Linked DNA regions of Homo sapiens. The protein of the gene in region 4 interacts with the protein of the main gene of each other region in a pairwise test. Each region holds a gene or a part of one and is shown on either strand. Other genes may lie near its edges.

Region 1 (3,500 bases), on a different chromosome or scaffold from region 4:
GTCCAGAACTATGGAATTAACTTTATCACATAAAAATTATTTCTAAATAAAGCATGAATTTATGAATTTTACTCCCACATAAGAGGAAGACAACTACAAATCAGGGGAATTGTTTAATAACAAAATAATGACCTCTTGGTAAAATTCATTACCACCCTCCTCCCCCGTTAAAGTGAAAAGGCTTAAGCTTGTCCTGTTTCCAAGTAGTGTATACTCTTTTGCTAGTCTATGGTTGATGGGATTAACACACAATTATCAATATTCAACACAAAACAATTGGTCAATTGCCAGCCTCTAAACTTATGTGAGAACTATTGGATTCAACACAGCTGGCTACTAAATAAAATATTTGGGGTCTGGCTAAAATAATACAGTTGAATGAATAAATTTACATTACTATTCCAAATAACTCTGAAAAGATTAAACCCCCATATTTGATCTTACCTTGGGATCTCCCAACCGTTCCAGGTATTTCTCAAAAGATCCCTCCACATACTTCAAAAATAAAACAAACTCAACTTAACCAAATACACAGCATTACTGAAATCTGATTATATTCTACATTATCCTGCAATGCGTTTTTTGCTCAGCTCAACAATTATGGTGTAAGTATCTACTTTGCACAGCACCTCAAGAAGATTTGCACATACACAAAAGTCATGAGTGGAGAAAAGCTGGAGTATAAAAGTATCTTAGGAATTGGTCCTGGCATATCCACATACCAGTGCATTTCATCAAATGGTATGCTTTCGAGTTTCATTTGAAATGCCAATTTAAGTAATGACAATTTTCATAAATCAAGCAAGACCAGTATTTCTAAGGATTTCAAATTTGACAAAACATGCATTTACAAAATTAAACTGAGGAACTTTAAAGAGAATTTCATTAGTTTCTAAAAAGACCATGGGACAAGCGAACCTTTTAGGGGTGACGGAAACATTCTATATCTTGACTGCAGTGGTAGTTCCATGATTGCATATCATCTCCAAAACTAAAAATGGTAAACTTAAAATGACGAGTTTTATTGAATGTAAAATATGCCTCAATAAAAATGAAATTAAACTCAGGGACTGTAATAGATTTATTTCTAGTTCCATGGATACATATCACTAGACTTTTAAAAAATCATTTAAATTTTCCTTTTAAAAAGTTTTGAGATATAAATGACATACAGGCTGGGTGTTGTGGCTCACGCCTGTAATCCCAGCACTTTGGGAGGCCGAGGCAGGCAGATCATGAGGTCAGGAGATCGAGACCATCCTGGCGAACATGGTGAAACCCCATCTCTACTAAAAATACAAAAAAATTAGCCAGACATGGTGGCGGGCACCTGTAGTCCCAGCTACTTGGGAGGCTGAGGCAGGAGAATGGCATGAACCCAGGAGGCGGAGCTTACAGTGAGCCGAGATCGTGCCACTGCACTCCAGCCTGGGTGAAAGAGCAAGACTCCATCTCAAAAAATAAATAAATGACATACAATAAACTGCACAATTTAAATAGTACAAATTTTGACTTATGTATACACCCATGAAATCATCATCACAATTGAGATGGTGAATGTATCACTTCCGTAAGTACCCTTGTGCCCCTCTATAACTGACATATAACCACTGATCTGCTTTCTGTCACTACAGATTGGCTTGTATTTTTTCTAGAGTTTTATATAAGGGAAATCAAACAGTATAAACTTTGCATGGGGTCTGGTTTCTATCACTCAGTACTGAATTGAGATTCATTTACGTAGTTTTAAAATTTTACACACATCTTTGTTACTCAAAATGTTGTCCACAAACCAATAGCAAGCATTACTTCAGTTCGTTAAAAATGCAGAAATCTCCACTGCACGCAGTGGCTCACACTTGTAGTCCCAGCACTTTGGGAGGCCAAGGCGGGCAGATCACTTGAGCCCAGGAGTCTGAGACCAGTCTGGGCAACATGGCGAAACCCCATCTCTACTAAAAACACAAAAAACTTAGCCCAGTGAGGTGGCGTGTGCCTGTAGTCCCAAGTTACTTTGGAGGCTGAGGTGGGAGGATTGCTTCAGCCTCGTAGGCAGAGGCTGCAGCGAGCCGTGATCCTGCCACTGCACTCCAGCCTGGGCAACAGAGAAGACCCTGTCTCAAGGTAAGAAAAAAAAAAAAAGAAATCTCGGGCCCCAACTCAGACCTACTGAATGAAAACCTGTATTTTAACAAGATCTCCAGGTGATTTGTATGCACAGAAATACTTGAGACGCACTGCTTTACACTATGGCCTTGCATTTGAAGTAATGTTACTAATAATCCTTTCCCCAGGTGTAGAGAAGACTACAATGAACTTCAAGGTAACAAGCTTTTAAGTCAAGAAGTCTTCACATAGTTTTAAAATTCACTGAAACCAGTTGAGAAAATTAGGAGTAAAACTCGAACAGCAGGCGAATACCCACAATAAACAGAAGAAACAAATAGCACTGCAAGGGCCAGAAGTGTTTAAAAAAAAAAAAAAGAAAAGGAAGCCTCCAATTTCATTAACAAGAATTCAAATACATGAAGGTGTACAAATATGTCTTCTGTAAGTTGTTTTACCTAAAGTTAATCATTAGTGGCAGAGCTCTAATTATACAATTTGTGACATGGAAAGACTAGATACTTAGACTCATTTGTTCCCTTACAATTAAGTTTTACAAGATTCCTCAAATTGACTGGCTGAAGATTATTGTACACAGGATTAAGCAAGAAAATAGAGGGGGTTCCCATTTTTACGTATTTTAAAATATGCATTGCAAAATATTAACAGAGCCAAACCTTTCATGAACTATTATTAATTGTTCAATAAAACTGTATGGATAATATAAAACAGCAATCAAAACATAACTTTTTAGGGTCTGGAGTTCTTGGCGTAGGACGAGGTAAGTAGTGGGAAAATGTAGATTATTCTTGATTTTTAATTAGAGTCCTAAACAACCTAATTCTAGCAGAGGCTCAAGAAGCATGTTAGCTACTGGGAAGGGAGCCAGTTGGGAATTATATATTTGCTATTGAGGAGACAGCATGATATAGTTTAATTTTGGTAGGTGCTCACAATTATTTTTCCACCTGCTACACACTCTACCAGTTCTCCCCTGGGTATGTATTCTACTTACAGACTCAAAAGTTTGTTGATTTTCCCTCATATATGAGACACAAGCCTTCCTGATTTCCAAATGATGGACCTGGCTGCAAAACAACTAAAAAGAAGAGAAAGACCAGCCCACTGTCAGTAGTCATTTAAAATAGGCACTTCTAAATCAAGACTATGAACTGGACACTTAAGGCTTCCTTATTCAGAACATATGTAGGAAATTGGGAAATTAAATCATCTTACTAAAAGTTTTTTTAATATCATCTTCAACGAAATGGGGGAAGGATGACTGTCATGCCCCATCCCCTTTTCTACTCCTTATGTGCACAGCCTATAATTTTTTTCTTAGGCATTAAAATTAGAGGAAGCAGGGGATGCTTACAAAGGATCAAGATATATTT
Region 2 (3,500 bases), on a different chromosome or scaffold from region 4:
GTTGGTAATAAAAATTGTTTAGGACTCTCAAAAAAGTTTAATGAATCAAGATTTAAATACAATTATTACTGAACCTGATCATCATGTGTGGCAGCAAATTTAACTTAAATTTCCTTCAAATTCATGTCCCATTTGTAGGCACACATTATTCTTGCCCATTTTGATTTCCTAATTATCAAGTCCCTCCACCACCTTCATGCTCTTCATGAGTCACAGATATCTTTGCTTCTCCTCAAATAGGATCAAGTGACTAAACCTGAGGCAGGGGCTCCATCCAATGTGATGATGGCTTTGAGTTTGGGGCACCAGCTCTGAAGGGTGAGGGACAGATACAGGGTCTCTTAGCTCCTTTCTTGCTGCTGAGGGCTCCTCTGCTGCCTGTCCAATGCTACCACCTTCTTTCTCCAAGTAGGATTCTCTCCTCTCTTGGACCACTCTTGAAGAGAGTCTCATACACAGGCATTCTGATAGTTTCCTAAGGTTTTGGCTGCTAATTACTTAGAGTCACAAACAATCTTTGAGTACCAAGCATCCTTCTTCTGACCTGATCTTATTTTTTCCACTCTGGTTCAAAAACAATGTTACCAAAGATGCTTAAAGTCTCTGATAGAAAGCTGTTATTGCCATTGATGCTCCCAGTATTTTTCACCACTTAGATCAGTCAACTCACCCATTGTGGTCATAGTTGTCAAGAGCATACAGTAGAATCTGGTAGTGAATCCATAACTCTACCAAAGAGTAAAAAGCACATACAAAAAATAAAGTCAGATATTTTGGAAGGCAATGAGGATGTTAATCTCAACAGTATTTCAGGACACAAAAAATAAAATCGGAGGAATTTTGACAAGAACTAAAGAAACAATTTCAGGATACAGCACTAGTACTTCTGAGACTGTGTGTGTGTGTGTGTCTGTGTGTGTGTGTGAGAGAGAGAGAGAGAGAGAGAGAGGGGACACAGAAAAAAGAAAGAAAATGTAAGAATAATGAATGTTTCTATATCAATGGCTAGTTCCCGGTCATCCTTGGTAGGAAATAAACAAGTAGATAAGTCAAGCCTTAATTATGTTTAAAACATTTTGTGAACTTAAAGTGGATTATGTGTTTACAATGATTTTGTTTTCTCTTTGTCTGGATTCATTTTTTTAAAGTTATATGGCTATGTTTTACAATATCAAGACTTCCTAGCACCGAAACCCCTGGCTTGGCTAATTTAATCTCTCTGCTACTTCATTTCCTCATCTGTAAGTTAAGACACATGCAAAATACACTCCACATCTGTCAACTTCATAAAACCATGCTGAATATTCAGCATTTTGCCAATATTGGTTTTTAGACAACCTGCTCTCTACACCATATATTATGCCATAAAAATCAGTATGTGGCAATATAAACGGATACACATTTTTAGTTTCAAATACACAAACATTCTCATCAAGGTAATACACTCCCAAGACTCAAGAATTAATGCTCTTCACCACAATTTTCTAACTTTTCAAACGTTTAAATAAGTTTAAGAAACTGATCACATACATTTTTTTGCTGCTGATAACAACTGGGATTCTCTAAGAGTGTGCTGAGGTTTCTTAACCTATTTGACCACAGAACCTCTTTCTCACAGTGGAAATGTGTGAGAAACACATTTTGGAAACAATATATTAAATGGTATCTTTTTATGTCTTTAAGAAAAGTTCCCCTACACAAACTAATTTTGGACTCTGATCAATAGCTCCAACCTTTAAGCACAGATAGACATTAATATTGTGCTAGTCTTTCAGCCTGTGAGGAAAGGAGTGCCAGAGTTCAAATTATCGCATCTCGTTAGCCTGGTCTGAGGGCCATGAGGGGAACCTTTCAAGTTCTAAGTGGGTGTTCTCATGTCCTTGAATGGCTCCTGGAAATTCATCCAGGTCTCAGGAAAAACAATAACCTTTTACAAAAAGAAAGGCATCTATAGGCATCCGCTACTTTTCAGCAGGATGAATAATTGGATTGTCTATGCAGAATACACTAATAAATCATAACAGGGGAAAATGTTCAAAACACCAAAAAGGTAAGAATTTGAGTTTCTGACATAAGCAGCCTTATTAAATGATTACTAGATTTTTCAGACATCCTCTACTGAGGAAGAGAACTGGAAGACACTCAAATTACTCCAGATTCAGGTGACAAGCCAGGATTGCTAAGCAAGTTCCTTGGGAAACTAATCTCCAAAAAGGGCACGAGACATCCATAGATGTTACCTGAACTCCAGGGAGAGTACTGCATGAAGTCTGAAATAATACTTTGATAAGCTGCTTTGGGGCACAGAATGACTTCCCTCATGGGACATGAATAAGTAACTAGCTAAATTGCCCCCTAAGGAAGGTGAGAATTGCAAACCGTCCTAAACTGAAGTGGTCATGCAGAATTCTTAAATGCTTTTTGGTAGATAGGAGCAACCACAGAAGTTTGAGTTAGCTGAAGGTTAGCTACACCTTTATAATCATGCTACCAGGTTATAATGAAAAGTAGGTCTCCGACCAAATCTGCCACACATACAGATATTCATTTAACAAAACATTCAGTAGCAAGCAGACACAGTATATAAGCTTCTGTAAGCTTTCCGCACTTTAGGTACTCCAAGCATGAAAGCTTCATTCTCAACAGATTCCTAATGTTTCAGAGGCCAAAATCTTCCTAAACGTTCCTGGAGATAGGACCATATGAGGATCAAGCCTTGGGTGTCGTCTCTAAATATACACTACAGGCCACCCTCATACACCTTTATCCTGTTTATGCAAGGGTGGGCTGTCTCCAAAACACGTTAGTTGATTCACAGATCTTAAAATGTCATATAATTGTAACATCCATCATGCTGCTTTGTAAGCCGCCAATTTCACTAATAAAAACCCATTTGTGACCTTCACTGTAATAATTAACAATGTTTCAGGTGTTAATTGAGATGGGACCACTGAAGCCCTTTTGGTGGCCATCTCTGTGGAGTGGCTTCCTGAGCTGAACACTAGCTTACCATCCTTGAACAGAGCATCCAACATTAGGGCAACCAGCTGCCCCTGTAGGAAAGATTAAAGTGACCAGTATATGCATATTATCACACTGCCTAAAATGTCATAGAATGAGGCTTGGTTTGTTTTTTAAATTTTTTCTATTTCTATTATTTTTCTATCGAATTATTTTTCTATTTTTATTTGCTGGGTCACAGACAACAGCAAATTCCATACCTTCAGAGTTATACCAGCTCATCTGCAGTAGGAGTAGAAATATCAAAGCTCTCAGTCTACCACCTTGTGCTCCAGAGATGTGGCCCAAGCACATCTTTGGACGTGAACCAGGGCAACCCAAGGCAGAGCTGGATTTCTGGGAGTTTCTCCCTATAAGCCCTGGACATGCTTACCTATACACCAGACTGCTTCCAGAGCCACTGCCGGGCAGAAGAGCCTGGGGTGTGTTCAGCTGCTAGAATAACACAAGTCTGAGGTCTTGTGTCGTCGGTCCAACAT
Region 3 (3,500 bases), on a different chromosome or scaffold from region 4:
ATCCGCGAAATGTCCGGCACTGCTGCCTCCTCGGTGGGCTATGAGGACACAACACGGACTCGAGTCTCTTCCATGCACCGTTAGCCAGCCCTGCAGTGGGAAGGCCTGGGCGGCACCGCGGTGGGAGGACGGACAGGCCAGGTGCAGCAAGGGTGAGCCAAGCAGCCCTGTGCCTGAACACAAGGTGGAGGACAGTGTGCACCAGGAAGCTAAGGACAGGCATGGCCGGGACATGGCACGGAGGACGGCTTCATGAGGAGCAGGACCGCAGATGTGGCTGCAGCCAGGAACGCTAATTACAGGCGGTGCTGGTGTTCAGGATGGCAATTTGACATTTTCCTTCATTTTGTTTTCTTTTCCATGTTGGCCCTATTTTATTCATTTATGTTATGTAAGTACCATGAACATCATAAAAAATGTGTTCTTCTACCACCTGTTCCCCCACCTTTCCCAGGTAACTGTCAGACCTGTCGTGTTTTTTTTACAGCTCTGTTGAGGTGTTCTTGACATATAAACTGCTATACAACTTGATCAGGTACATTACCTGATGAGTTCTGACATATGTACACAATGGAGACACCAGTACATCATAATAATAAACACATCCATCATCCCCCTCAAAATTTCCTCATTTTTTTTAATAATCCAACCCTTTCTTGCTCTTTACCCCATTCCCAGGCAACCACTGATCTTTCTTATCACTATGGTTTGCACTCTAGACTTTTCTATCAATGGACTTTTATATATTTATAGCATATAAATATATATAGGCCAAGCGTGGTGGATCACGCCTGTAATCCCAACACTTTGGGAGGCCGAGGCGGGTGGATCACTTGAGGCCAGGAGTTCGAGACCAGCCTTGCCAATGTGGAGAAACCCAGGTCTCTACTAAAAATACCAAAATTATCCGGGCATGATGGCACACACCTGTAATCCCAGCTACTTGGGTGGCTGAGGCAGGAGAATCACTAGAACCCAGGAGGAGGTGGAGGTTGCAGTGGAGCCGAAATTGCACCACTGCACTCCAGCCTGGGCAACAGAGCAAGACTCTGTCTCAAAAACTAAACACACACACACACACACACACACACACTATATATATATATATATATATATATATATATATATATATATATATATATATATAGTGTGTATATAGTGTGTATATATAGTGTATATATACATATATAGTACACATATACATAGTACATATATATATAGAGTGTGTGTGTGTGTGTGTGTGTGTGTGTGTGTGTGTGTGTATATATATATATATATATATATATGGGTTTTTTTTTTTTTTGGTCTGGCTTCTTTCACTCTGCATAACTTAGACATTCACCCATGACGCTGGGTTATCAACAGCTCACTTCTTAAGTACTCTGCTGTGTAGATACACCACACTCTGTTTATCCATTCACCTACTGATGAACCTGGGTTGTCTCTAGTTTAAAGGTATTGTGAGTACAGCTGCTATGAGCATCCACGTACAGGTCTTTGTGCGTACATATGCCTTCCTCTCTCAGTTCAATACCCAGGAGTGAAGGGCTGGGTCCTATGACACGTATGTTTAACATTTTAAAATGGTTTTTGAAAAAAAAAGTTTATAAATATACATATATATTTATTTATACATACATATATATATATATATATTGAGATGGAGTCTGGCTCTGTCACCCAGGCTGGAGTGCAGTGGCGCAATCTCAGCTCACTGCAACCTCCACCTCCCAGGTTCAAGAGATTCTCCTGCCTCAGCCTCCTGAGTAGCTGGGATTACAGGCGTGCACCACCACACGTTGCTATTTTTTGTACTTTAAGTAGAGACGGAGTTTTGCCACATTGGCCAGGCTGGTCTCAAACTCCTGACCTCAAGTGATCCACCCACCTTGGCCTCCCAAGGTGCTGGGATTACAGGCATGAGCCACTGTGCCTGGCTCCATTTACAACTATTTCTATCATTATAATGCAGGGGCTCTCAAACCTGAGCATGCCTCAGAATCCCCCAGAGGGCTGTGCGCACAGACTGCTGGACCTTTCCCCAGCTTCTGATTCCGTCCCTCCAGAGTGGGGCTGGAAGAGTTGCCTTTCTGAGGTGAGGCTGCGGGTCGGGGGCACGTCTGAGAACTGCTGCAGAGGTGAGTGCTGTGGCTCTGTCTGCATTCCCCCTGGAAGACTGAGGCACCAGGTGTACTGGTGCTAACAGACCACAAGTCCCTCCTGGACACTGCCCTTCTCTGAAGGGAGCTGCCTCCTCACTCGAGGCTAGGCCTCGCTTTGGGAGCCCACATCCCATGACTGGTTAATGCTATGGGAGTACACAGAGCAGTCCACAGGTGAAATCACAGCATGAGGAGGAACAAGGACGCAGTCACATAAGGAAACTGCGTGTGTGTGCATTGGATGTAAACTATGAACAGGGCAGAAACTCTGAGAACATCCTTTCCTACAGCAGAGCAGGGTCTCCTGCCACTTCCAAGTCTTCCCTGGCAGAATCCTACTGGTTTAAAAAGCAAAGTCACTGTGGTAATAAACACAAAATTAGGCCTTCAAGCTGCTGGGGATGACGCTCCTCATTGTGGAAAATCTGGAAGATGCTAATCAAATTTCCAAGTAGGTTATCTAGTTGTTGTCTAATTCAGAGAGGCTTGGCCATAGACACGGTGGCTTACGCCTATAATCCCAGCACTTTGGGAGGCCGAGGCGGGCAGATCACCTGAGACCAGCCTGGGCAACATGGTGAAACCCCGTCTCTACTAAAAATACAAAAATTAGCCAGGTGCAGTGGTGCATGCCTATAATCCCAGCTAGTAGGGAGGCTGAGCCAAGAGAATCGCTTGAACCCGGGAGGAAGAGGCTGCAGTGAGCTGAGATCGCGCCATTGCACTCCAGCCTGGGTGGCAGAGCGATGCATCCTCCCAAATTACGCTGTCTGGGAAGCCACTTGCCTTCCTGAGGCAAAGGAGCCCAGGTTCCCTGTAGAAGCCGGGCTGATTCCGTTAACTCGCATTTGCTGAGTGGCGCTAGGGTACTTGGTGCTGCAGGGAAAACAGATTGTGAGCCCTCGGGGCAGAATCCAAGTGAGACAGACACATTGCTCCCTCCCTGCTGCTGCCAGTCCATCTCTTTGCCAACAAACCTGCTTAAAATGCCAAAGCTGGTCCAAAGTTTCAGGAAAACAACTTCCGCCAGAGGGCACGTAGAGGGCACAGATGCTATAGATGCTTCTCTGACAAACACTCCTGACCCCCTTGACAGATTGGAAAATACATGGTTCAGAAAGGGTGAGAGATTTCAACTTGAGAAGTGAAACTAGGAAAAGATGGAAGGTGTCCGGATTTCTAGCTCAAGTCCACACACTGCTTCTCTGCGGTGACTAAATCGTGGCTGTGTTCTCATCACCTGCCTCGCGGCGCTCCACACCACCAGCCAGCGTCTGCCACACACGCGGGGGGGTGTGGATCTGCCTAAGAAGGTGTTTCAGTGCTACTTACAGAAAG
Region 4 (3,500 bases):
TTATATGCCTTTTTCCAAAGCCCCATAATTGTGCTCATGATGCAATTTCTTCTTTCCTTACTCTGTGTCTGAAGGACTATTAAGGAAAAATGCTCCATCACTATTGCTCAGCACAGAATCTTCCCAAATATCTTCCCTCTAGGTCAGGTGTGGTGGCACACACCTACAATCCCAGTGATTTGGGAGGGCGAGACAGGAGGATTGCTCGAGGCAAGAGTTTGTCACCAGTCTGGACAGCATAGTGAGACCCCATCTCTACAAAAAATAAGAAAAAATTATCCGGGTGTGTGGTGGCACGCACCTGCAGTCCCAGCTACTTGGGAGGCTGAAGGGGGAGGATGGCCTGAGCCCAGGAGTACAAGACTACAGTAAGCTGTGATCGTGCCACTGCACTCCAGTCTGGGTGAAAAGCCAGGCCTGTCTATTTGGGGGGGGAAAAAAATCTGCCCTCTGCAAGCAAGCTGCTGATGTCTGCTGAGACAGGTCGCTGCCCTGCCCAGCCTCCCAACGTGGTGTTGCAGCACATCATGGGTGGGTAATGGGTACAAGGCCCAGGGAAACAGAAATCAGCCAACACTGCACACTTTACCAACCATATAGTGTTCATGCTATTGTTCAGAACATCTCAAAGTGAAGCACTGCTCTCCAATATGTCTGAGGAGGAAATGCAGGAAACCCGGACAGTCACTGCTCATCTCAAACACCGGCAATGGAATGAGCACTCCTCTGGGTACACGATGGGAGAGTGTGGGCAGTTCAGAGGGGACTCTCCCAAGACAGCCTGGCCACAGTGGAATAACCTCGTACTGGGAAACCAGAGGCCTGAGTTCAAAGCCACTGCTGTCAGCAGCTCGTGAAGGAGTGTGAGCCTGGCTGTGAGCCTCGGTCTCCTCATCTGCAAGGTGGGGTTGAGACTCCCACCCACTGCCACGGGGTGGCCCAAGGCTCAGGGGCACACATTTATTAACTGCAGCTGGTAGTGCTGGGATTTCAGAGTGAATTACGTCCCTGTTTCCCAATGTCCTAATGAGCCGGTATCCTTCCTGGTGCCCAGGCAACCTGGCCTGTATATTTATACTCCTCTCAGTAGCCCTGTGTAAGGTCACAATCACAGAAAGAAATTAACCATTTTTGTTTTTCTGACTTTTTTTCTGTACAAGAAACATGAAAAATGTAAATGTTTCCCAACCCTAAGCAAGCACGTGGCCACCCCTGTGTGAAGCCCAGCCAACTTCTAGCAAATTCGGCAAAGACATGAGCTGGCAGGATTTAAACCCCGGATTCCTACATAACAAAAACCCTCAGAGCAGCAGAACACGGCTTGGGGAAAACAGATACTTACTGAAAGTTATGATTTGGGCTGTGCGTTGGACCTAAAAAGAGGAAACAAAAAGACAAGTTATTAATACTCCATGATTTGGAATACAACCTTCTTCAAATCAGGCCAGTGGCAAACAGGCTGAAGCCAGCGGGCTCACTGGTGGGCAGCTGTCCTCGGGCCTCAGGCTCCACTCGTGATTACGTCAGCAAGGCTGGAAACCACACACAAGGGAAGGGGTGCTTTGTCACTGAGGATATCTTTGTTTTTGGAGTTTTTGCTGTCCTTACTCTCTCTCTTCTCATCTAGTCTTTACACACAAAATCTGTTTTACTACTTATGATCGGATGGCGTGGGCTTCGGTGGCAGGGCCGGGGCGTTTGCTGCCTGGGAGTTTTTCACAGGTGGGATGAAGGGGGACACAGTCCTTCCTGCCACTTAATTCCTTCACCAGGTGTGACGAGCACAGAGACTCAGAATCTCTGGTCATCGCACTCAGCTCTCTCCCCACCCCAGCCAGGTCAGCCTCGGGCCCTACCTAGCCGTCCTGCAGTGTGGCCACTCTCCCACTGACACCTGACCTCCTAACAAACAGCCTTCCTGCTAAACACCTCAGCTCCTCGTGTGTGCCTGGGATTGTCTTCTGGGCTCCAGGTCCATAAACCTCTCCATCTGCACCTATTTTCTTTTTGTTCTCTTTTTTTTTTTTTTTTTTTTTTTTGAGACAGAGTTTCACTCTTGTCACCCATGCTGGAATGCAATGGCGTGATCTCGGCTCACTGCAACCTCCACCTCCCAGGTTCAAGCGATTCTCCTGCCTCAGCCTCCTGAGTAGCTGGGATTACAGGCGCCCGCCACCATGCCAGGCTAATTTTGTATTTTTAGTAGAGATGGAGTTTCTACTAAACTGGCCAACTACTACCATGTTGGCTAGGCTGATCTCAAACTCCTGACCTCAGGTGATCCGCCCACCTCGGCCTCCCAAAGTGCTGGAATTACAGGCGTGAGCCACCGTGCCTCGCCCTATTTTCTCTTATTACTAGTAAATGGGTAACAGGTCAAGCTGGGCCCTGGGGCACATGGGGAAGGCCCTAGGGAACGGTTTCATTGCTCTCCCCTCGTGCTGACTGGTGTGTGTTCAGTTTCAAATAGCAACTGGACCTCTTGCTCGGTGGCTGGGAACCTTCATATCTGCTAACCCACACAATTTCACTGTCCAACTCACCCAGCCGCACAAACAGGACGCCAGTGGCGGTAATGGTCTTCATCCCGTTGGTGGCCACGCACTGGTAGTAGCCAGTGTCTGTCGTGTCCAGGTCCTGGATTCGCAGTCGTGAACCATATTCTGTCTTCCGGATGATGATCCGCCGCGGCTCCTGCACCACCGGGGCATCATTCTTTAGCCACCGCACGTTAGGGGGTGGGTTTCCTGCCACCTTGCAGTGCAGAATTGCCGTCTGGCCTTGGACAATGGTGATATTGTTTACTGGCTCCAGAAAATTCAGAAAGTAACCTGCCAAGGAGAGCGGTCACAAAAGAGCAAGCGTCAGTGAGGGCTGGAAGGAAGGGCTACCTGGGGGCTCTGCTATGAACTCTTCCAAGGGAAGGTTTCGATTTTTGTCACCTACTAAAATAGGTTGTTATCTGCGGTAATTATCTTCTAGAAAGCTACAGGGAACACTGAATTAGTGAATACTGAACCACTGCTCCTATGGGAAATACAGAGTCAAATTCCTGTGAGCCTCTCGTCATAATACTTTCACCAACCAACCAATACATAACCTTGGTTTATGTGTGTTTCTGTTTAAAGACACCATATTCAATGTGTACTGTTGATTCCTTCACATTGAACCCATGGCCAACAGCCTCATAACTCATGCCTGAACGAAGCTTCTCTCACACACATTTTTTTCTCCATAAGGCATGTCGCAGCTTTCTTGCACTTAGGAACACCAGACCACTTCAGTGCTGTGCCTGGGGGCCATCATAAACAATAAAATCACCAACAAAAAGCCCAAATATGCAAGAAACTTGGCACTAAATAGACCAAGAAAAGGCCACATGTTCACAATATGAGGGCAGAAACCAGGGAGCAGACCATCGCCTTGTTTAGCCCCAGCTGGGACACAAATTTTTCACTGCCGTGGGCGTGTGTCTGTGAAAGGCCACAAAAGCACCGTAA

What was found.
Region 1: the proteins of ROR2 (region 4) and ALG13 interact in binary tests that used the Homo sapiens proteins (3 or more experiments, as listed by UniProt).
Region 2: the proteins of ROR2 (region 4) and TPTE interact in a two-hybrid assay, tested with the Homo sapiens proteins (one study listed by BioGRID and IntAct).
Region 3: the proteins of ROR2 (region 4) and DUSP14 interact in a two-hybrid assay, tested with the Homo sapiens proteins (one study listed by BioGRID and IntAct).

The regions. Positions count from the first base shown.
Region 1 is NC_000023.11:111,708,670-111,712,169, reverse strand, and holds part of ALG13 (UDP-N-acetylglucosamine transferase subunit ALG13), read right to left. Parts: intron 3,206-3,500; coding exon 3,122-3,205; intron 496-3,121; coding exon 445-495; intron 1-444. UniProt on the Homo sapiens protein: Catalytic subunit of the UDP-N-acetylglucosamine transferase complex that operates in the biosynthetic pathway of dolichol-linked oligosaccharides, the glycan precursors employed in protein asparagine (N)-glycosylation.
Region 2 is NC_000021.9:10,524,583-10,528,082, reverse strand, and holds part of TPTE (putative tyrosine-protein phosphatase TPTE), read right to left. Parts: 5' UTR 3,395-3,500; intron 729-3,394; 5' UTR 671-728; intron 1-670.
Region 3 is NC_000017.11:37,506,891-37,510,390, reverse strand, and holds part of DUSP14 (dual specificity protein phosphatase 14), read right to left. Parts: intron 1-3,500. UniProt on the Homo sapiens protein: Involved in the inactivation of MAP kinases. Dephosphorylates ERK, JNK and p38 MAP-kinases. Plays a negative role in TCR signaling by dephosphorylating MAP3K7 adapter TAB1 leading to its inactivation.
Region 4 is NC_000009.12:91,754,729-91,758,228, forward strand, and holds part of ROR2 (tyrosine-protein kinase transmembrane receptor ROR2 isoform 1 precursor), read right to left. Parts: intron 2,832-3,500; coding exon 2,544-2,831; intron 1,374-2,543; coding exon 1,343-1,373; intron 1-1,342. UniProt on the Homo sapiens protein: Tyrosine-protein kinase receptor which may be involved in the early formation of the chondrocytes. It seems to be required for cartilage and growth plate development. Phosphorylates YWHAB, leading to induction of osteogenesis and bone formation.